Linked DNA regions of Homo sapiens. The protein of the gene in region 2 purifies or fractionates together with the protein of the main gene of each other region. This does not show direct contact. Each region holds a gene or a part of one and is shown on either strand. Other genes may lie near its edges. The genes, in order: CTPS1, UBA6 and HDLBP.

Evidence for each region.
Region 1: the proteins of UBA6 (region 2) and CTPS1 fractionate together in Homo sapiens (co-fractionation; 2 studies listed by BioGRID). This does not show direct contact.
Region 3: the proteins of UBA6 (region 2) and HDLBP fractionate together in Homo sapiens (co-fractionation; 2 studies listed by BioGRID). This does not show direct contact.

The regions. Positions count from the first base shown.
Region 1 is NC_000001.11:40,975,197-40,982,744, reverse strand, and holds the start of CTPS1 (CTP synthase 1), read right to left. Parts: upstream 3,050-7,548; 5' UTR 2,916-3,049; intron 2,716-2,915; exon of another isoform or gene 2,184-2,715; intron 2,154-2,183; exon of another isoform or gene 759-2,153; coding exon of another isoform or gene 751-758; intron 706-750; exon of another isoform or gene 634-705; intron 1-633. UniProt on the Homo sapiens protein: This enzyme is involved in the de novo synthesis of CTP, a precursor of DNA, RNA and phospholipids. Catalyzes the ATP-dependent amination of UTP to CTP with either L-glutamine or ammonia as a source of nitrogen.
Region 2 is NC_000004.12:67,628,065-67,635,170, forward strand, and holds part of UBA6 (ubiquitin-like modifier-activating enzyme 6), read right to left. Parts: intron 6,455-7,106; coding exon 6,365-6,454; intron 6,259-6,364; coding exon 6,178-6,258; intron 5,410-6,177; coding exon 5,281-5,409; intron 3,845-5,280; coding exon 3,793-3,844; intron 3,708-3,792; coding exon 3,644-3,707; intron 2,472-3,643; coding exon 2,402-2,471; intron 1,079-2,401; coding exon 1,007-1,078; intron 1-1,006. UniProt on the Homo sapiens protein: Activates ubiquitin by first adenylating its C-terminal glycine residue with ATP, and thereafter linking this residue to the side chain of a cysteine residue in E1, yielding a ubiquitin-E1 thioester and free AMP.
Region 3 is NC_000002.12:241,235,593-241,242,698, reverse strand, and holds part of HDLBP (vigilin), read left to right. Parts: intron 1-20; coding exon 21-239; intron 240-2,390; exon of another isoform or gene 2,391-2,576; coding exon 2,577-2,798; exon of another isoform or gene 2,799-2,878; coding exon 2,879-3,097; exon of another isoform or gene 3,098-3,197; coding exon of another isoform or gene 3,198-3,308; intron 3,309-3,911; coding exon 3,912-4,050; intron 4,051-5,929; coding exon 5,930-6,084; intron 6,085-7,104; coding exon 7,105-7,106. UniProt on the Homo sapiens protein: Appears to play a role in cell sterol metabolism. It may function to protect cells from over-accumulation of cholesterol.

The DNA.
Region 1 (7,548 bases), on a different chromosome or scaffold from region 2:
CATTTAAAAGTGGTTGCAGCTAAACCAAAATTCCTTTAATTAAAAGTAGTTCTCTGGCTGGGCATGGTGGCTCATGCCTGTAATCCCAGCACTTTGGGAGGCAGAGCCAGGAGGATCACTTGAGGTCAGGAGTTCGAGACCAGCCTGGCCAATATGGGGAAACCGCATCTCTACTAAAAATACAAAAATTAGCCGGCTGTGATGGCGCACGCCTGTAGTCCCAGTTACTCAGGAGACTGAGGCAGGAGAATCGCTTGAACCCAGGAGACAGAGGTTGCAGTGAGCTGGGATCATGCCACTGCACTCCAGCGTGCGCGACAGAATAAGACTACCTCAAAAAAAAAGAAAAAGTAGTTCTCTTCTATAATTTAACAACAACTTGCTCCTTGTCAGAAATCTCTCCCAGGCATGCAATGAAGAGAGACTGTAAATACTGGGGGAGAGGGACATCAGATAAGAAACCAGTCTGAAGCACATGACGGGCAGAGGACTCAAAGAGAGGGGAGATGAGATTAAATCCAAAAAGCAGTGCCACGGTGGCAGGGAAAGGAGAAATAAGATATAAGGGCAGCAGAGTCAAGATGCAGGTGAAAACAGCATCGACAAGAGGTGAGGAGACCGTGACAGGCTCACCACGGAGGATTTATCACTGGTCCCCAGCTTCAGAGGTCCAGGATCGTCCATTTGGTCAGCAAACCCAAATGTGACCAAAATGAAAAACACAATTAGAAAGTAGCAGAAAATGCTTACTTTGGCATGGTCAGGACATTTTCCTCCTCAGGAACGTTCCATGTGAAGCCAAATTATGATAAAAATAAACTAAGGAACAAGAAAACTAAGGAGTTGTGCTCGAAGCATTCCCCCGCCCCACCCCCTCCCCAGAGCAAGAAAGAACACACTTGGCAGGGAAGGAAGAATGCTCAGAAGTCTTCCCCGCTCCAAAGGCTCTTTGCATCCTCTGCTGCAGCATTTCCAAAAGCATGCTCCCTGGTTTCAACAAAATGCACATGGGATTCTCAAAAAGGGTGTTATGGATATAAATCAGAGAAACGCTGATTAAACCAAGTCATTTAACGCAAGAATCCTGGGAGTGTTTAGCAAGTAAACTCGCACTGTGATCACTGCTATACAGTATGCGGTGTCTCCAAGCTTATCTGACCCTAAGTCTCTCACTTTACAGTTCCTTATTGACACATGAAAATCAGTCTTAGGTACATTTTAGATATGTTCTAACCAGACATATACCTTACTGAGACTATACCCTGGTCTCCCTAAGTTTTGGATGATCCTAGAAATTCCTCTGCCACCGAGTGAGTTACTTCTACAAAAGATTCATCTCATCCAATTACATTTGATTTGTCCCAATTTTACTCTAAGAGTTTAACATCTCTCTTTACGTTCTTTAGTTTCTCTCTTTAGATTCTTGCAGTCTCAGTGCCTGGCAATACATATGCCAGTGTACATAAAGATCAGGCGGGAGGCTCATTCATTCATCCTTATGGGCTACTGACTTACATGACAGCTACTGTGCTTGGGGACTGCAAACATTAATCAGATTTGGGCCCATATCTCAACTTTCTGGCAGTCCAGTTGGAGAGATGAAACATTAACAAATAAATGAGTAATTCAGTGACGGTGGAAGCAGACAGAAAACATGTTTAGACTATAAAGGGGGACGATGAGAGCAGACGCTTTCAGTACCATGGCCATCAGAGGAAGGTGAGACAAGTCCTGGGGGTAGTGGGCGGATCCAGGCGGCTCCTGTTTTGTAGATATGACTTGCAATGGGCCTTGAAGGACTGACTGCACGACTCAGAGCACAGGAAAGGGAACAGGGTGAACAGGCAGGTGCAGGGCAGCTACAGAGAACAGAGGTAAGGCCGTGAGGGGGAAGGCGGGGAAGCAGGGATATACAGTGGAAGATAAACTGGAAAGGTAGGCAAGGGCCAGATCATGTGCAAACTGGCATGCCCAATCTGAACTTAATCCTGAAGGTGACGGAAGGCGCAAGAAGGTTTTCCGGCACAGAAGTAACGTAAATCAAGACGCATCAGAGAAATTCAACAAAGACTGAGGGGGGAAATGCTTTTTCTTTCAATGTTATGAGATGAAGTGCCAGCCCCCATCACTAGTGTGCAGACCTCAATCATGTCACTTGAGCTGCCTGCAACGCGGGTTCTCACCTAGGGGAATGGGGGTGAGAATCTCTGCGCCGCCCGCGTCACAGGGCCGCTGAGGATTCGAAACTGTAACGAGCGTGGACGGAAGGGCGCCACGCAAACGTGGTGAGCTCTATACACCGCCAGCGCCCCGACCCCCGGCCGCCGGGAAGGGAGGAAGCCGTGAGGCCCAAAGGCCAGCCGCGGGGCCCAGGGCCGGCGAGTTCGCAGGCCCCCTCGTCCTACGGCGCGGAGCTGCCGCGCCCAGCCCCGGGCGGCTGAGCCCGCGCCGAGGCCGGAGGCCCGAGGCCCGCACTGCTTGAATGGATGGGCGACTGCCGGGCTTCCTCGCAGACGAAGAGCAAGGGCGGAGGGTGTGGGGGGGGGCGCCGCTCCACTCCCCTACGGCCTTCTCCGTCCGACGAGCCCGGCCGAGCTGATTCGGCGCGGCCCAGCGCGGCAGCGCAGGCCCCGCAGCCTCTGAAGCCGCCCCGCGCCCCGCTTGGCCCCTCTCCCCAGCGCCGCCCGGCCACGAGGCCCGCGCGCGGGAGCCGGCAGCTCGCCGGCCGGGGCGCCCGCCCCACTCCCGTTAGGCACACAGCCCATTGGGCAGGACGCCGAGTCACCTCGCCCCTGATTGGTAGGAGCGACGTCCGTCACCGCGGCGGCGGGGCTATTCGGCGCCGGGCTCAGCTCGCGCCGCTGACTCCTGCGCGGGAGAACAGATCCCCCCCGGGATCCCTGGAGTCAGCCTACCTGCGGCCGGCTTCAGATCCTCCCGTCAGCGACAGAGCTGGGCCGGCGACGCGCGCGGAGCCCCGGACAGCCAGTGAACAACCCCGACCGCATGCGCCCGGCAGTCTTTCACGGAGGCGGGCTCTAGGCTGTGCGCACGCAGAGGTTGGAGGGCGGGCCGGGCCTGGAGGGCGCGGGGCGGGGCGGGGCCTGGAGTGCGCAGGCGCGGGACAGGACCGCTGGGCCGCCTCCGCTGAACTGTGCCGCCGTAGGTTCGAGGCCGGGCGGGTGGTGGCGTGTCTGCCCCTCTGCTTCCGTCCCAGCCTGTGGCCCAAGCTTACTCTCTTGAAGGGGAGGAGGCTGTTTGGGAACTCACGCCTGGCCTATTCGTCACCTGGCCTCGCGTCCTCCCACAGCGGTCTCCTGGAGTTCTGGGCGTCGCCTTCCATCCGATGGTCTTTCACTGTGGGCTCCTGGCGGTGATGCGCCAGCGCATCTCTGCCTCCGGGCGAGGGACGGCGGCAGCGCCACCCTGGCCTCCAAGACGGAAGTGCGGAGGGTCGCGCGGCGTTGGCTCCTCGTCGGCCTCCCTCCTCCCCACACCTGCCCCGAAGGCGGCTGCTTTGGATGGACTAGGATCCCGAAAAGTACGGTTTCATCTAGCTATCGCTCCCTGAGCACCGACTGTGCCACGCACTGTGCTGGGCACCGAGGGACCCTCTCCTCGGACTAACGATGTAGGGAGGCACACTGAGCAGCTCATTACACTTTATGGTTGTTATGGGTGCTTGCTGCAGAGATGCTGGTGCCGGGGCAGTGAGTGCCCAGCGCGGGGACTGACCCAAGTCCGGTGGTGATTGGGAATTCAGGCGGGAAGCCCGCCCTGAAAAAGTAACTTTGAAGCAGAGACCTAAGTAGACGGCAAAGATGGGAAAGGGAGAGGCGGGGATAAGAAAGTGAGACATGCTTGAGCCCAACAGTTCGAGACCAACTTGGGTAACATAGCGAGACCCCGTTTCTTATAAAAATAATAATAGTAGGCCGGGCGCAGTGGCTCACACCTGTAATCCCAACATTTTGGGAGGCCGAGGCAGGCGGATCACAAGGTCAGGAGTTCAAGACCAGCCTCGCCAATATGGTGAAACCCCGTCTCTACTAAAAATACAAAAATTAGCTGGGCGTGGTGGTGGGTGCCTGTAGTCCCAGCTACTCAGGAGGCTGAGGCAGGAGAATAGCTTGAACCTGGGAGGTGGAGGTTGCAGTGAGCCAAGATTGCACCACTGCATTCCAGCCTGGGCGACAGAGCGAGACTCCTTCTCAAAGAATAAATAAATAAAATAAAAATAGTAATAATAATTTTTTTTTAAAAGTGAGGCAGAAGGAAAAGCCTGTGTACAAGCCCAAAGAGGCCGGCACAGCTGAATTGGAAGGCCAGTCTAGCCAAGTCCACAAGGGCCACAGGAAGCGAGATTAACATGAGATTAGGTTGAAGAGTTGGGTAGGGCCATACGGTGAAGAGCATTATAGACCAAGTAAAGGCTTCTCTTTCTCCTAGGGATAGTGGAAAGCTGTAGAAACTTTTGAGAGGCTTTTGACCTTCCTTTGAATAGTGAATATATGTACATGGTTATAATTTTTCCCCAAACACTACACAAGGGTATCCATGAAAAGTAAATCTCTTATTTCTGTACCCCAGTGTTCCTGTTTTGTTCTCTAGAAGCAGTCTGCCACAAGTTCTTAACTATCTTCACTGAAGGAGTTTTAAAAAAAAAGATGTGATGGGATCAGATTTGTGTTTTAGGAAAATCATTGAAGCAGATGGATTCCCAGAAACCAGGTCAGGAGGCTCCTGCAGTGGCCTCTTTTAGAGGCTTCTGGCTCCTTCCAGATCTGGATCACCAGTGCTTCAACCCTGACAACCTGCCCATGCTGCATTCAGCTCCAAATCTAAAAAATGTTTGGAATGCCAGGCATAGTGGCTCACACTTGTGATCCTGACACTTTGGGAGGCTGACACAGGGTGGGAGGATTTCTTGAGTCCAGGAGTTCAAGACCAGCCTAGGCAATATAGTGAGACCCCATCTCTACAAAAAATACAAAAATTAGCTGAGCATGGTGGCACGCATCTGTAGTCCTGGCTACTCCAGAGCCTGAGGCTGGAGGAATGCTTGAACCCAGGAATTCAAGGCCAATGGGAGCTAGGATCCCACCACTGCACTCCAGCCTGGGCAGAGTGAGACTCTATCTCAAAAAAAAAAAAAAAAAGTTTGGGTTGTCTTTGAAGGTACTCTACAGCCACATCTTCTTTCAAGAAGCATTTGATGTTTATCAAAGTGCCTGGAACATAACAGATGCTGAGAACATACTTGCTGAGGTAATGAAGATGCTATGGGAGATGGAAAAATGAGCCATTCACCCAACCACTCCTCTGAATGACCACTTGACATTGTCTTCTTCCTCAAAGCTCTTCCATCTCCTCCCCCATATTCTCCTCAGCTGGTGGTCTTGCTTCCCATTTCACGAGAAAATAGAAGCCATCAGTAGATTTTTCATATCCACCAACCACTTTTATCTGCGCACAAGCTCTGCGTTGTCTCCTGTTACTGTGGACAAACTGCCCACACTCCCAGAGGTCAACCTCCTCTTTGCTCCAAGTGCCATATCCATTTGTCAACTCAAAGAATGTCTAGTATGCAAGTGCCATATCCTTTCATCAACTCAAGAATGTCTAGTAGAATGTCCCTTCCTGCGTCATCAGTCTTTCCCTGTCTAGTAGATCTTTTCCACTACCGTGATGCAAACATGCTGCAATTTGTTCCATCTTAAAACCCCTCTCCTGACTCTATGCCATTCTCTAGCTCCCCCTCCATTTCTGTTTCACTTTTCAGCACAACTCCTAAAAAATGTTGTTTGTACTTTGCTGTCTCAATTTCTTCCCTCTCTTGAACTCATTCCAATCTGGATATTTTGCTCATATAATTTCACTGAAACTGATCTCGTCAAAAATTAACCTCCATGTTCTCAGACCTCTTCTTTGTACATCAGCCTAGACTCCAATCTCTAATGTCCGTAAGTCCCAAATAAAGACAACAGTGGGCTGGGCGCAGTGGCTCATGCCTGTAATCCCAGCACTTCGGGAGCCTGAGATGGGTGGATCACAAGGTCAGGAGTTCGAGACCAGTTTGCAAATATGGTGAAACCCCGTCTCTACTAAAAATACAAAACTTAGCCAGACGTGGTGGCAGGCGCCTGTAGTCCCAGCTACTCAGGAGGCTGAGGCAGGAGAATCACTTGAACCTGGGAGGCGGAGGTTGCAGTGAGCCAAGATTGCACCACTGCACTTCAGCCTGGGCGACGAGCGAGACTCCGTCTCAAAAAAAAAAAAAAATAGACAACAGTGTGGCTGTATGTGCATGGCATGAATGCATATGTGTGTGTGCACGTGCGCATGTGTATGTATTTACATATTTGGGCTGCTTCTCTCCCCCACCATAGGCCCAGTCTCCTTTTGGGCTCCTAGGTGCAGCTATACAGCCCCAGAGCTGCCCCCAAACTGACCACTTCCCTAAGAGCATTTGTCACAGCTGATCATTTCCTCCTTAAAAGGTGGGTGTCCTTTACTTGGCTTCTAGGAAACCACTTGCTGTTCATTTTTTCCTATTTCACAGGTTTCTCCTTCTAGATCTCCCTACCTAGATCCTCTTCCTTTTCCTCTATCCTGAACTATAAACATTGCCCCAAGCCTCAGTTCTAGGATCCCTTCTCTCTAAAGTCATTATCTAGTCATTAAAACCATCTGGCCCAGACGCAGTGGCTCACGTCTGTAATCTCAGCACTTTAGGAGGCCGAGGTGGGCGGATCACAATGTCAGGAGTTCAAGACCAGCCTGGCCAACATGGTGAAATCCCGTCTACTAAAAATACAAAAATTAGCTGGGTGTGGTGGCGCAGGCCTGTAATCCCAGCTACTCGGGAGGCTGAGGCAGGAGAATCACTTGAACCCTGGAGGCGGAGGTTGTAGTGAGCTGAGATTGCACCATTGCACTCCAGCCTGGACAACAGAACAAGACTCCGTCTAAAAAACAAAACAAACAAAAAAAATCCTTATTCTGACTACTCCCAAATTGATGTTCCCAGGCTGGATGTGTCCTGAACCCCAAGTTCTCTTCCAAGCCCAGGTCCTGAGGTGAGCCAGGCGCCTCGCCTACACGTGGGCCAACTCTATGATCCCATTGGTGCTCTAGAGCTCCCCGTGGGATCAGGCTGAGGCAAACTTCCTGAAAAGAACCAGTCTGTATTTTAGGCTTTGTGGGCCATATGGTCTCTTGCAATCACTCAACTCTGCCTTCATAGTGCAAAAGTAGCCATAGATAATATATCGATTAAATGAATGTGACTTATTTCAATAGAACTATAGCTGTGTTCACAAAATACTCTTTTACAGAAATAGAGCTTGGGTCTGAAGGCCAAAATGTGCCAACTCCTGAGCTAAACACATATCTTTGTCTCACTTTTTCCCCGCCCCATGCTCCCCTCGCTCCCTCACAGTCTTCACCTGAGGTTATTCCTCAGTCACTCGCTGACTCAAGAACCTACCTCCGGCTTTCTTCCTAGGGAACCCAGGCTAAGACAGGGTGCCTCCCGCACATTCCGTG
Region 2 (7,106 bases):
CCTTTCTCCAGCCACATTTAGTAGGATACATTAAGCAGATTAACATTAAGTGGATCTTCAGTATTGTCTTGCGTTTTACTACATCTTTTAATTAAGTGACTCTTCCACTTCACTGGACAATTATTTCATACCTTCTTTTCTTTGCTCTTACTTCCTTTATCTTCTTATCCCCTTCACTCTGAGCTACTAAGCTAGCTTCTTATTTCAACTAAGAAAATATTCTTTCTTTATCATAGCCCCAACTATCTCTGTAATTTCCTCATTTAAGACTCTTCCCCTTGTATATTCTCTTCTAGACGAGTCCTGACCTTAAAAGCTTTTCAAGGCCTTTCTCTGCACTTATTTCTGCTGCCTACATTGCTCTTTCACTATTCCTTTACTTCCTTCAGGTTTCTGCTAAAATGTTACTGTTATCAGAGGTTTTCCTCACTTCCATCCCATATAAAATTATACCAGCTCCATCACTCTTTCTTTTCCCTGTTGTATTTTTCCTTCTTAGCACTTACACTCACACTGCAATATTATGTACTTATTAGCATTTTTGTTTATAGTCCCTCTCCGCCCAAAATACATTGGTCCAATGTATTTTATACATTCCTTCAGAAGGTATTATTATGTTATTCATGTATGTATTTTATTATCTATCTTCTCACAAAGGCATGTAAGCTCTATAACAACAGGGGATCTTTATGTATCTTGTTCACTGACAGAACTCCAATATATCTAATTTTTAATACCCACAATGATATAGTGGGCATAAAAAAATATTAACTGAGTAGCTCATACAATCTAAGTCTATACTGATCTTTTTTAAAATTCCACACTAGAATAAAATTAGTATTAATCAACAGTTTGTGATTCTGACAAATCTACTTCAAACTCAAGTTGCACTGACAAGAGCAAGAGCAAGAACCATTCATTGTGATATTCTCCAGGTTTAGAATGGGACTTGGTACAAGTCCAAATTCCCAAACTATTTGCTGAATGAATGATTTTTTAAACATACCTTATTGGAAGGCTTGAATTCCTGAATCTTTACTTCTGAAAGAATATTCAAGAGGGCATCTGCTGATAAGTCCTGTTTTTAAAAAAGTAATTTTACCAACAAACATATTCTTCTAAATTCTAAAGCTAAAAATATCCTACAAAAGGTCCTTAATCATATTACAATATATGAATATTTCATTATCTGAATATGTAGACATCCATTTGAGACATTTATCTTTATTTCTATAAAAATATCCCCCCATAAAGGTTATGGGGGAGGAGAAGGTAAGGGGTAAAAAAGTACTTATTAGTCAACAAACTTGAAATTTTAGTCCTTCTGCAAATTTTTTAAAAGGCATTTTTAGGACTGGTTGTAAATATAAAACTGAGTGACTTGATCAGTCAGTTTTAATTCCCTTAGCTTTATGTTTTATGTTTTTAATGTTTTACAAAGTTCCCTGAAGTAAGTTATACTCAATAAGTAAAATAAGTAAATGGAATTCATACCTTAAGAAGGAGGGAGATATTTAAATGGTTAAAGATGAACTTATATGAATTTAAAGCTATGGGTTGTATTTACATTTGTCATTGAGAAGTTGCTTGGCAAAGGCTGAGACTTAGTGCTTTTGAGGTCAATTACCACACTCACCACTAAATTACCACTGATTTTCCCAAAAAGAATATCAGACTGAATGCCACTATTTTTACCAAATATTTACAGTTTATTTGTATGAATTCCAAAAAGGATTAATCTAAAACAGATATTGTTATCTGAATCCAAAACAGCCAGTGTTAATTATGGGATCTGATTCATGTTTCTCTATTTAGCCCACCTAAAAGTACAGCAATTTACTTAGCTAGAATATGCATTTGTGAAGAAAAGAGATGCCTCTCAAAACCGTATGAGGCTCTTTAGATGTTAGTCAATGAAGATGATGTTTAAGAGAATGAGTATGATGCTAAAGTAAGAAATGTCAATATAAGGGAGCATTTTCAGATTTCCTGAAAAGCACATAAATTATCACAAAATAACAAACAAATGTTAACAAAGAAAATCTCTACGCAGTATTTCAAAATTGCGATGAAATGGTTTGCTGTGGCTTTTTAGAATAACTAGGATAACTGAAGCTGCTAAGCAGGTTATAAATATTCTTAAAACAAAGTTTAACTGCTTTTAACAAATAATGCTGTTTCACTGCTTCAATTCAGAAGGAAAAATCCGACTTCTACTTAGCAATACTGCAATGAGCTTTTAGCTTCCATTATGTTAGTATGGGTAAAAATACAATAAAAATTCTGTATCAAAAAGAGTGATTCTTATAACAAACAAACATGTTTTGATGCAATTAGTGCATCAGTCATCTAATTCTAATTTGGTTTTGCATCACTTGCTAAGGCTTAAAGAATATCTTACCTCTTCTGCAAATGGAATACAATATACTGTAGCATATAGTTTTGCAGCATTCTGAAGGAAACTGAGGTGCCTTTTGAAATTAAAAAATAAAGCAAAATTTGAATGTACAGTTTTAAAGACGATATTTAACTCATTATGAACTATAGCCTTTAAATGTAGTTTGAAGAAATATAACCACAGAATTATTATTTCAAGTTTTTTTTTTTAAGTTAGACAAAAATATTCTGGTCTACACCAAAACACTACAGAAGTTATAAAAGACAAAACATCAAACAGTTATTCTCAAAAACACTTAACATTCAGGTAGTGATCATGACTACCTTGGGAAGAGGAGTGAGTGGACAGAACCAGAAAACTCAGACCAGTGAACAATAATTCATTTTAAGTCATAAGAAATATTATACATTTGGTCTTAATGAGTATATATCAAGTTCAAACTAAGTAAATGTGTTTATTTAAAAACAAAAAAAGAAAGTCTTATAGAAGAAGCAGTCCAGCATAAGGTGACTGGAAGCCTAAAACCACCACCAGATGAGAAAATTAAGCATAGAGTTATCTGCTGAAAGGAAGGTTAGTGAATGCAAGCTAAGTGTTTAAAAATATATATACATAAGGTTGGGTGTGGTGGTATGCACCTGTAATCCCAGCTACTTGGGAAGCTGAGGTGCGAGGATTGCTTGAGCCTAGGAGTTCAAGACCAGGCTGGGCCACATATGTGAGACCTTGTCTCTTTCAAAGAATAAAAACTAAATTAAAAAAATAGAAAAAATATACATATACACACAAGTGTGAATCTAATGTGTATCTAATATAGTGTTTCCAGGTATTCACACAAAGACCAACTCCTCTGAAAATAATTTGAGATTTAGGGAGTTATTCAGTAGTAATTATTTGTTCCTCCATATAACTGAAGATTCTTATATTTGATTTCATTAAATGTAAAAACACATTGTCATTTTACTAATTTATGGATAAAGTAAAAAAGGTGATTTTGGTTTCACCTTAGATATTTATTATAAATAATGAGGTTATTTACCATGTAAATGAATGGATTCACATTTGTGTGGGAAGGGTTGTGGCTGGCTTTCTTGGTCAGAATGACTTGTTAACTCTTAAATGAACAGGGATGAAATAATTTAACATTAAAGAGCCTAAGGTTTTCACTCTGCAATGTACAGTTAAGGAATTTACAGTAAAGAAATATATAATGAAGGATACATAAAACTAAATATAAATACTTACAAAGGCTCATTTAAATCAAATTTTATTGGAGAGGGTGGCCTCTTTGGTGACTGCCAAAATAAACCTGGCAAAAAGATACAAATATCATTTTCAATGTATGTAGCCAGTAATAAATGTCATTAAAATTTATTCTCAACATTTATACTTACTGCCATCTTTTAATCGTATGTCCAGAGGGAAACAGTGAAGAAGCTGAAGAGCCTAAAGAAAAAAAATGAATTAAAGACACCCACTACTTAATATTATCTGAGGAAAAATTAAAAAATAAAATTAAAAAATGTGTGTAGTAAATATATGCACATGATTCAAAAATCAAAACACATTAAAAGAGACACAGTGAAGTCTCCCTACCACCCTTGTATTCCATCTGTCCATTCTCCTGTCAATGTCCCTCATAAATGAAAAATTCAAATATCATTTTCTATCACTATTTGTAGGTTTATTGGGAGGTGGTATCTACAGCAAACAAATGTAGATTACTTCACTCCTTTTTATATAAATGGCATATTTTACATGTCATTCTGTTCTTTTTAAAGAGCTAGTACTTAAATAACAAAACCAGAAAAAACACACAGTACTTTGTATTTTTGAAATTGATACATGTTTGAGATTTGCTTCAAAATCACCTGGGGGAAGGTAAGAATGAACGGGAATGGTGATGAAACAAGATTTATCTATGAATTGATAACTGCTAACCCTGGGTGATAGGTAATTGACAATTACATTAGGGTTCATTATACTATTTCCTCTACATTTCTATGGCTGAATATTTTTCATTATAAAAAAAGTTTAAAAAAAATGCACAGAAGATAAGAACTAAAGAGTTCCTTAGATTTTTGAAACGGGTCATTGATAACCATGTTAAGAACAATCTGAAGAGTAATGAGCAAAGAAGTCAAATTTACTGGGTAAAGAAGTGGTAACATTGAGTAGTACAGACCACTTTTCCAAGAAGTAGAGCTCTGTTGAAAGTAAAAAGAAGAAGTATAAACGAAATATTTTTTAAGTGGGGTGTGGTGGCGTGCACATGCAGCCTCAGCTACTTAAGGGCTGAGGCAGGGATCACTTGAGCCCAGGAGTTCCAGGCCAGACTGGAAAACATAGGGAAACCCTGTTTTTTTGTTTTTTTTTAAAGTTGTTTCTAAGGAAGATGAACTTAAGATCCTAAAGAGAGGGAAAGACTAAAGAGAAGGCAACACACATTCCAGCAACTATATTTAACTGGAGGTAAGAATAACAGCTAATATTTAGTAATTTTTTATGTGCCAGGCTCTGTTCTAAATGCTTTGTGTTACCTCCTTTTATCTTTACCACTACCTTATGTATTAGGTACAAATTTATTATTTCTATTTTACAGATGGGGAAACAGACATAAAATGTGATTATCAGATATGGGTGGAAATGGCAAAATCTCAGCAAAATTTCTGACTAAATGTCCCTATTTTCTCAGTTTCTTGCTTCTTCTATTCTGAACAAACTTCTTTTAGATTAGCATGTGTTCTCATTTAACTTACTACTAATTTCTGAAAAGCTTGCCAAAAGAAAGAATACACATTTCAGGTCAATGAAATTAATTTGTTAATAACTAAATAAGCCAAGATCAGACCTTTTCTTAATGTCTCACAATGCATACTTACCTTATGGTTAAAATATTTTTCAAACTTTAATCTTGCTAATTCTACACACTGGGACCAATTTCTAGGTCTTCTGCTAAGTAACTTTATAACTTGAAAACAGCCTTCTAAACTGTGTCCACTCTGTATCTTCTAGAATGGGAGAGAAAAAAAAAATCAACATACTTCCAATTACAAACATATACACATCCCTCACCAAAAGTTAGCCTAAGTTTGAAGTGTCAACTCATGTGTTTTATGCTTTTCTTTTTTCACCTCAAGCTCCTTTTCCCTTCCTTCTTCTTTAACCTTTCTTTTCTTTTCTGTTTGAGAAGGGGAATGGTAAGAGATAGCATACAAAATTTTAACTCTGATTTCTTATCTTACAAGTTATCCTCATATTTTCCTAGCTGTAAGTTATTAGTACTATAATATATGTACTCACTATAAGTGCTATGAATATTTGATACTAAAAAGTGGGCCTTGTTAGCAAAAGATTAAAAGAAAGTGAGAAAACATCTTTAAAGTTGCCTTCACTATAAGAGTAATAAGTCTTGGAGATTATTGTTCCCTCATGAAATTTTAACTAGAACTTACCTCAATTTTTTCTTTCCAAAGGGCTTAATAAAAGCCCTTTTATTATTTGTAGCCCTTCTATCATAATTATCATATCTTTATTAGCTCGCACCATACGAATTGCTGTTTTGTGAGTCGAACATGCTCAAATATCGACAATTCCATGTAGTTCAAACAACCAAAATGATAATTTGTGACCTAATTTCAAGATTCCTTATGTATCATTTCATTTTTTATATACAATCACTCTTTATGGAGGTAAAATAAATCACTTGTAGATGACTTGAAAATAAGATTACACTGACACAAAGTGTTAAGTTTGTATTAAAATTTACTGATTTTTACCTGTAAGACTTCTTCTGCAGATGAATAGGTTTGCCAAAATTTGTTAAACAATGAAGGTTTGTGGGAAAAGGAACTTTCAAACTGTAACAGAGAAAAGAAAAAAAAAATTACAAATAGAAGTCTGTTTAAAGTCAGAAATATCTTCTTTCTCACTTCAAAGAAAATAAATTTAAAAAGGAACTTTTACCTTATCTCTTGCCCACTGTATGGTATGTTCAATAGCAGCTGGAAAGGATTTTAGAGTACAAAATGGTATTTCCTCTTCTGGGGGATCCCGCTAATTTATAAAATATGACAACAGGTACTTAAGGGGAAGCAATGACCAATTTTTATTGATTTAATCTAGTTTTGAGCTTTAAGCCTATTAAAAATCCAAAAATAAATAAAATCCAACCAGACATTTTTATATCTTCTCTCTCTTAGGCAATAAGAGAAGTTAATTCTTTTGACATTTAACCTATTTGTTAATAGCTATGTAATGCCAAACATGAATCTTATTTATTATTTGTGTACTCATTTAAAGCACCATGTAGTACTCATGACACACCATCATCTATAAATCATTTTTTTCCTCATGAATCAAGGTGACATTTAAAGTTTTATAACACTGCCCCGCTTTGAAAAGTAATTCAGGAATACCCAGTATAGTGCTCAGAAAAGCATGAGTTTTTCCATGGAGAAAAACATCTGGGAGCAGAAATATGTCCTCAATGCTTGAGGTTTCTTGCAGAAAGCATGTATTAAATAAATGGTAAATACCTAAGTCGTTTTTTGTGGATAAAGTACCATTGAAGAAATCCACATTCTATTATAGAGTACATTTTGCCTAGGTTTATTGGTTTACCTAATCTAAAATGACTCACTTTGTCTCAGCAAGTGAATAAAATTTTATGTCTTTGTTGACAGTTCTAGTCTCAATCTAATAGTTT
Region 3 (7,106 bases), on a different chromosome or scaffold from region 2:
TGCCCTGTGTTTGGTTTCAGGCCAACATAGCCGAGGTAGAGGTCTCCATCCCTGCCAAGCTGCACAACTCCCTCATTGGCACCAAGGGCCGTCTGATCCGCTCCATCATGGAGGAGTGCGGCGGGGTCCACATTCACTTTCCCGTGGAAGGTTCAGGAAGCGACACCGTTGTTATCAGGGGCCCTTCCTCGGATGTGGAGAAGGCCAAGAAGCAGCTCCTGCATCTGGCGGAGGAGAAGGTGAGCATGGGGAGGGAGCGTGACTCTTGGCAGGAAGCCTGGTCCTCAGTACAGTGTTCTCGCTTCTCACTGTGGAAACCCCTGAATGCCCTTCCTTTGTGGCGGGTCAGAAAACAGCTCTATAATGTACTGTTTATGCGTCTTTGTTTTTGCTGTTACTGGAGGGCCTTTCCAGGTCCAAACGCTCACATATGCAATATATAAAAGTTGGTCTTTGGCTTATTAGTTTTGGGGTGCTTTTGTTTTTTAAATATGATTTACAGTAAAATTGGCCATTCTTCAGGTATAGTTGAGTTTTAAGTAACATGCAGTCATGTGACCACAATCATCAAAATTCATTTTCCATCACCCCTAAAGATTGCCCATGGAATTGCTGTTGTCCTTGTGTCAAAACCCATCTGTGGGTATGTTTCCGGGCTCTTCTGGTGACACCAGGTTTATGGGAAGTCTGGAAATCAGTAGTGTGAGCCCTCTTAACTTTGGCTGTTCTACACCCCTTGCTGATCAGCCTGTCAATTTGTAGGAAAAAAGCACTTTCACGTTTTGATTGGGATTGTGTGAAATTTGAAGATGAGACTGGCGAGGATTGACAGCTCAGCAGTTTTGACTTTTGCAGGCATTTCTCCATTTTTTTTAGGTCTGTGATTCTTTATTGGTGTTTTATAATTTTTAGCACATTTTTATGTTCGACTTAACAGATCTAACTACTGTTACTCTTTTAGTGCTATTGTAAATGGCACTTTTTTTCCATTTCCAGTTGTTAGCACATGGAAGTGCCTGTGGTTTTTGTATGTTGACCTTCACGAGGCTGCTAAATAAAGCTCATGTATATTAGCGCCAGTCACTGTTTTGTGGATTTTTTTTTTTTTTTTTTTTTTTTTTTTTTTTTTTTTGAGACGGAGTCTTGCTCTGTCGCCCAGGCTGGAGTGTAGTGGCGCAATCTCGCCTCACTGCAAGCTCCGCCTCCTGGGTTCACGCCATTCTCCTGCCTCAGCCTCCCGAGTAGCTGGGACCACAGGCGCCCGACACCTCACCCAGCTAATTTTTTGTATTTTTAGTAGAGATGGGGTTTCACAGTGTTAGCTAGGATGGTCTCGATCTCCTGACCTCGTGATCCGCCCGCCTCGGCCTCCCAAAGTGCTGGGATTACAGGCGTGAGCCACTGCGCCCGGCCCACTGTTTTGTGGATCCTTATTTTATATGTCACAATCACGTGGTCTGTGGACAGTTACATTTCTCTCTAATCTGGAGCCTTGTATTTCTTGTCTTTTTTGTTGTTGTTATTAGATTGATGTTTTTGTCTTTGTGTTTAACCAGCCTTGCGTTTCTGGGGTAATCCCTGCTTGGTTTGGTAGGTTGTCTTTGGCCATATTGCTAGATTGCATTTGCCTAATTGATTGCCTAATGTTTGACTAATGCTGCTATTTGTGGATGTCTTTGAAAAGTAGCAGAGTCTCTAGGTGGTATTTGGTGAAACCTGCACTTAAAAGGTAGCAAAGTTGTTATTTAATATTTTTGTGCTAGCATGTTTTTCTTTGGTATTTTTGCTTGCGGGCCAGATCTTGGGTCCGGAGAAAGGCAAGAGCTCCCCGTGTGGACCTGAGTCCCGTGGAGCAGCGCCCTTCTCGGGGCCCCTGCGTGGGTCTGCCAGAAGCACTGGTGTCCACAAGCAGTGTCCGGGGCCTTTCCAGGACCCTCGTTTTCTTACTGCCACACAAGGGCGTCGCACTACACGAGGCCTCTGAGGACCGGTCTCTAACTGTAGCCTTGGTTGGCTTGTGTCCCTCTGAGCTTGAGCTTGAGCCTGGGGAGTGGCTGGTTTTGTGGAGGCTGATCTGTAGCACTCGTGGGAAGAAAGGGAGCCTGGCCCAGATTTGTGTGTGCTTGGTCTGGAAGCAGGTAGAAGAGTGGGAGCATGGTGCACACCTCTTGGGCAGCTTGCTTCCTGCTCTGCTGGGCACACCCCACGCTCCCCAGGACGTGCACTCCGCCAACATATCGTCCGGCGCGTTGCTCCCACCTCCCCCTGTGCAGATCAAAAATGGCTTGGAGAAGTTTGGTCAGTGCTTGTAAGTGGCAGGACCAGGGTTCTAAGCCTGTGTGTTCATCCCACCAGCATCTGGTTGTTGTGGAAGAGAAGTAGGTGTGCAGTCTGGGTATTCATCTGTTTATTCAGTGAGGTGTGCTAGCCCCATTTTGGGGGTATTGGTGCAACATCAGGACACTGGTGACAATGTAAGGGGAGCCCGAGCTTGCTGTCCTACAGACCCTCTTGTCTTCCTCACTGTGGTCCAGGCACGTGGTGTCAGGCTAACACAGTGGGATTGGTTTCTGCAGCAAACCAAGAGTTTCACTGTTGACATCCGCGCCAAGCCAGAATACCACAAATTCCTCATCGGCAAGGGGGGCGGCAAAATTCGCAAGGTGCGCGACAGCACTGGAGCACGTGTCATCTTCCCTGCGGCTGAGGACAAGGACCAGGACCTGATCACCATCATTGGAAAGGAGGACGCCGTCCGAGAGGCACAGAAGGAGCTGGAGGCCTTGATCCAAAACCTGGTAGGGAGCGGGCCTCGGCGGCCGACTCTGCTGGGGCCGTGATGGGGTGGCTTATCTTCCATCTCTTCTTAACACTGCAGGATAATGTGGTGGAAGACTCCATGCTGGTGGACCCCAAGCACCACCGCCACTTCGTCATCCGCAGAGGCCAGGTCTTGCGGGAGATTGCTGAAGAGTATGGCGGGGTGATGGTCAGCTTCCCACGCTCTGGCACACAGAGCGACAAAGTCACCCTCAAGGGCGCCAAGGACTGTGTGGAGGCAGCCAAGAAACGCATTCAGGAGATCATTGAGGACCTGGTAGGCACTTGGGTGCTCGGGGAGGGGTTCTCACCCCCCAGTGGCCACTCACCGAAGCCGTGTATGAGTGTTCGCTCCACCCTGTAGGGAGGTGACTCCCTCATACAGCCCTGGAAGGCTTCAGAAGGGGCTTTCTGGTGCTCGCTCTTCTTTCCTCAGCCTGTCTGGCCTCCTTCCTGATAGTTGGTGAGAATTCTGCCTGCGAGAAGCACTTAAAAAAAAAAAGAGAGAGAGAAGGAGAAGAGGAGAGGGGAGAGAGAGAGAGGAAAGAAAGCAAGAGAAAGAAAGAAAATGCATTCTGTATAAGGGATCAGGAAAAATGAAAATGCAGTCTAAGGGGTCAGCTCTCTTCTCCCCTCTGTGAAGGAAAGAAAATCGATTTGAGGGCATCCACGTGAATCCATGGGAAGTCATGAGAAGACGTGGTCTTTAGAAGCAGTCTTTAGAGAGTGTCCCCTCCAGGCCACTCCCCTGCCAGGGCCTTGGATTCCCTTTCCCTAATAATCAAGTCTGATGCCTCCTCATGGAGTCAGAGGCTACCCCAGGAGGTCCCACTCCTTTGGCTGAATTGGCCACCCTCCAGGGATGGCACCTGGCCTTCTGGGACACATTTCAGAGGAGGCCCACCCCCTTAGACCTGTCCTGCTACCTCCCTCCTCCCTGCGCCTGGAGCCCTGGACTCGGGAGAAGGGGAGCATCTGTGCCAAGTGGCTGTAGAGGACAGGGAGGAAGGTGGTGTGAAGAGTGCTGTAAAACTTGCCCTAAGGAATTTAATCTTTGCTCTTTTCTTTTTTCTTTGTGTACCTCCCTCCAGGAAGCTCAGGTGACATTAGAATGTGCTATACCCCAGAAATTCCATCGATCTGTCATGGGCCCCAAAGGTTCCAGAATCCAGCAGATTACTCGGGATTTCAGTGTTCAAATTAAATTCCCAGACAGAGAGGAGAACGCAGGTGGGTCCCCCATTAGCCCTGCTCTGCTTGTTAATAGTGGCGCCTCCCATGTGAGAGGCGGGGCTGTCGCACATACTGGTGAGGCTCTTTCCTGTCTCTGCTGGAAAACCATCTATGTATTCTGGGGGCTTCCAGAGGTTCAGGGTCACTCCCTGGCCTTTAAAAGATGGACCACGTCAGTTACTGACAGAGTGACCAGGTGACCTTCATAGGTCCTAGAGACACACAAGGTAGCCAGTCCCAAGGCGATGAGGAGCGTGCAGCCTCATCCTCGGGTGTCCCGAGTTCAGTCCCAGTGATTCTCATGACATCGTTTGGATCGCATGAGCCCCGTCGTAGAGCTTCCTCCTCCACATCTCCCATCACTGTGGGGTGTCCCCTGTGAGGCAGGCAGCTGCAGCCTCTGGCTGGCCAGAGGGCACCATCCAAGTGGCCGGCAGTTCTAGGAGAGCATTCAGTTCCCCGTACCATGCTTGCCCCCAGCTCTGCTCATGCACCTGGTGGTGGGGAGGCGACCTGTGGGATGCGGGTCGGTTGCCTCTCTCTCACTTGCTCTGCATTTGTGAAACAAAAGGTATGCCCTCCACTCTGTGTTATCAGATGCCCGCCCTCCACTCTGTGTTATCAGTCTTGGTTGAGCTGTTTGGGCGGCAGGTGGCCCTGCAGCCTGCTGAGTGCACATAGTGTCATCTCTCTGGGCATCCAGGAAGCATGTCACACACAGCCATTCAAGCCCCTTTGTTTTCCTGAGAATACAGGGTGTTTTGAGTAGGAAACTAATAAACTCATACTGCACTCTGTCTATGTTTTACACTTCAGTGGTTATTTAAAACTTTGATTTTGATAGAATTTCACAGAATAGTATAAAGACACATCCTGTGGCACCAGTTTCTTTTCTCAACTTCTCCCCTTTTACACACGTTTTTTTTCTGAATGTCATTTTTAGACATGTCCCTTTATTCATGGTGGGTATTTTCTTAGAACAAGGACATTCTCTTACATAATTCTAGCACATTTATCGGAATCGGATTTAACATTATATAACAGTAGTATCTAATATGTTGTCGGTATTCAAATTTGCCAGTTTTTCTCCTTCAGAAACACCTACTTCCCCATCCTAGGATCACCCTTGATTTCAGGCAGGCGTCTGTCTGGTCTCCTGCTCATTTATTTACATCACACACCTCCTGGGTTCTGTCTTAGTGATAATTATTGTTGTGTCTGTTTTGTGACACTTATTGTTGTGGTGTCTATTTTGGTACACACGCGGTGTCCCAGTGTGGCCTGTAGGAGCCCCTCCAGCTGTCTTCTGTGTCCTGTTCACACGCCTCTTCACTTCTGGGGCTCTCGCTTTCTGGCATAAGGAGCTGGCACAGGTTTACCTTGGCCTTGCCCTTTCTGTCTCCCCTAGACCTCTCACCCCCCTTCCCACTGCCTCTCCTGGGTGGGGCTGCGTGCTGGCCGCCTTCCCTGATGAGCCCTGCCTCACAGTCAAGCCTCACTTGTGCAGTGGGTCTGCCCTGTGTTCCTCCCATGAACTAACTCATCTGATCTCACTGAAGCCTCTGCTGTAGTTAGTTGCTGTTAGCTTCATCTTCAAGGTGAAGAAGGGAGACACAGAGCTCACGGCCTCCCGGCAAAGCCTTCATTGCCGCCCCCCCCCCCCCCCCCAAGGTCTGGGAGCCCTCTTTGAGGCTGCTGTGGGGACGTCCTATCTGCTCTCCCTGACCAGACCAAGACCTCCTGAAGGACAGGAGTGGTTTTCCCTCCCTTTTACCACCCAGCACCCAGCAGGTGCCTCACAGACATATGCATTCTGAACAAGGTGTGGGGTCTCTTCCAGCAGCTGTCAGCTGTCCCTTTTCCCCTTTCTCTCTAGTTCACAGTACAGAGCCAGTTGTCCAGGAGAATGGGGACGAAGCTGGGGAGGGGAGAGAGGCTAAAGATTGTGACCCCGGCTCTCCAAGGAGGTGTGACATCATCATCATCTCTGGCCGGAAAGAAAAGTGTGAGGCTGCCAAGGAAGCTCTGGAGGTATGTGTCCATGTGCCCCCCTCCACCCCCCGCCAAGGCCCAGTCAGCAGGCACCTGGGGAGACGCGTGGCCTGGATGGGATGGACGGTTGCCCAAGCGGCAGTGGCAGTGGAGGTAGCCCTCTTGCTCCTACCGTGTGCGCACGGGCTGTGCTTCTCGGCTGGACACAGAGTTTGGGGAGGCCACTTCCCTTCACCAAGGCTCGGGGTTCTATAGCCCCTTTCTGGGACAGCTGCATGGGATCCGGCCTCTCAGGCCCACGGTGGGTGCGGGGGCTGTGGAAGGGTCTCAGCTGCAGGGGGATGAATGTGACCTCCAGTTGCAACGTCTCCCCCCGCGTGAGTGGGGTTATCAGGCCTAGCTCACCTTGTGTGCAGTCAGTGTCGAGTGCCACCTGCGTACTGGATGCTGCTCTCAGTGCTGCGGTGCCACAGCACACAAAAATAGTTCTCACGTTGCCGTGGAGAGACAAGCAGTCAACGCAGATATATCCTGTGGCAAGTGATGGTAAATGCTGTGGCAAGAAAGCAGGTTCTGGAGGTGAAGGGCGGTGGGGGAGACAGGGCAGGGAAGGTGAGCAGCGGTCTGAGAGTCCCTTGTGGCACCTCGTGGGCATTAGCCAAAGCCGTCCTGATCCCAAGGGACAGGGCAGGGAAGGTGAGTAGTGGTCCGAGAGTCCCTTGTGGCACCTCATGGGCATCGGTCAAAGCCGTCATGACCCCGAGGATGTGCCAGGAGTCAGGGCCTCTCCTCCTACGTGGGCCTGAAGGGGCTGCTGTAATTCAGGAGGGTAGGCTTGGGATGAAGGGTCTGGAATTTCTGTCTGCCAGCATTAGCCTAATGCAAATCTTTTCCTATTCTTTTCTATTGAGTTAAAGGTCCTGGTGGCATTGTCGGGTGGGGCACATTGCTGTTGTCATAGGGCTGTTTGCCTTGTGTTTCGTGGAGCCCCATTGCTGAGCTTACAACGTCACTCTGCTCTCAGCTCCCACGGCCTAACCATGACCATCCTCCCTGCAGGC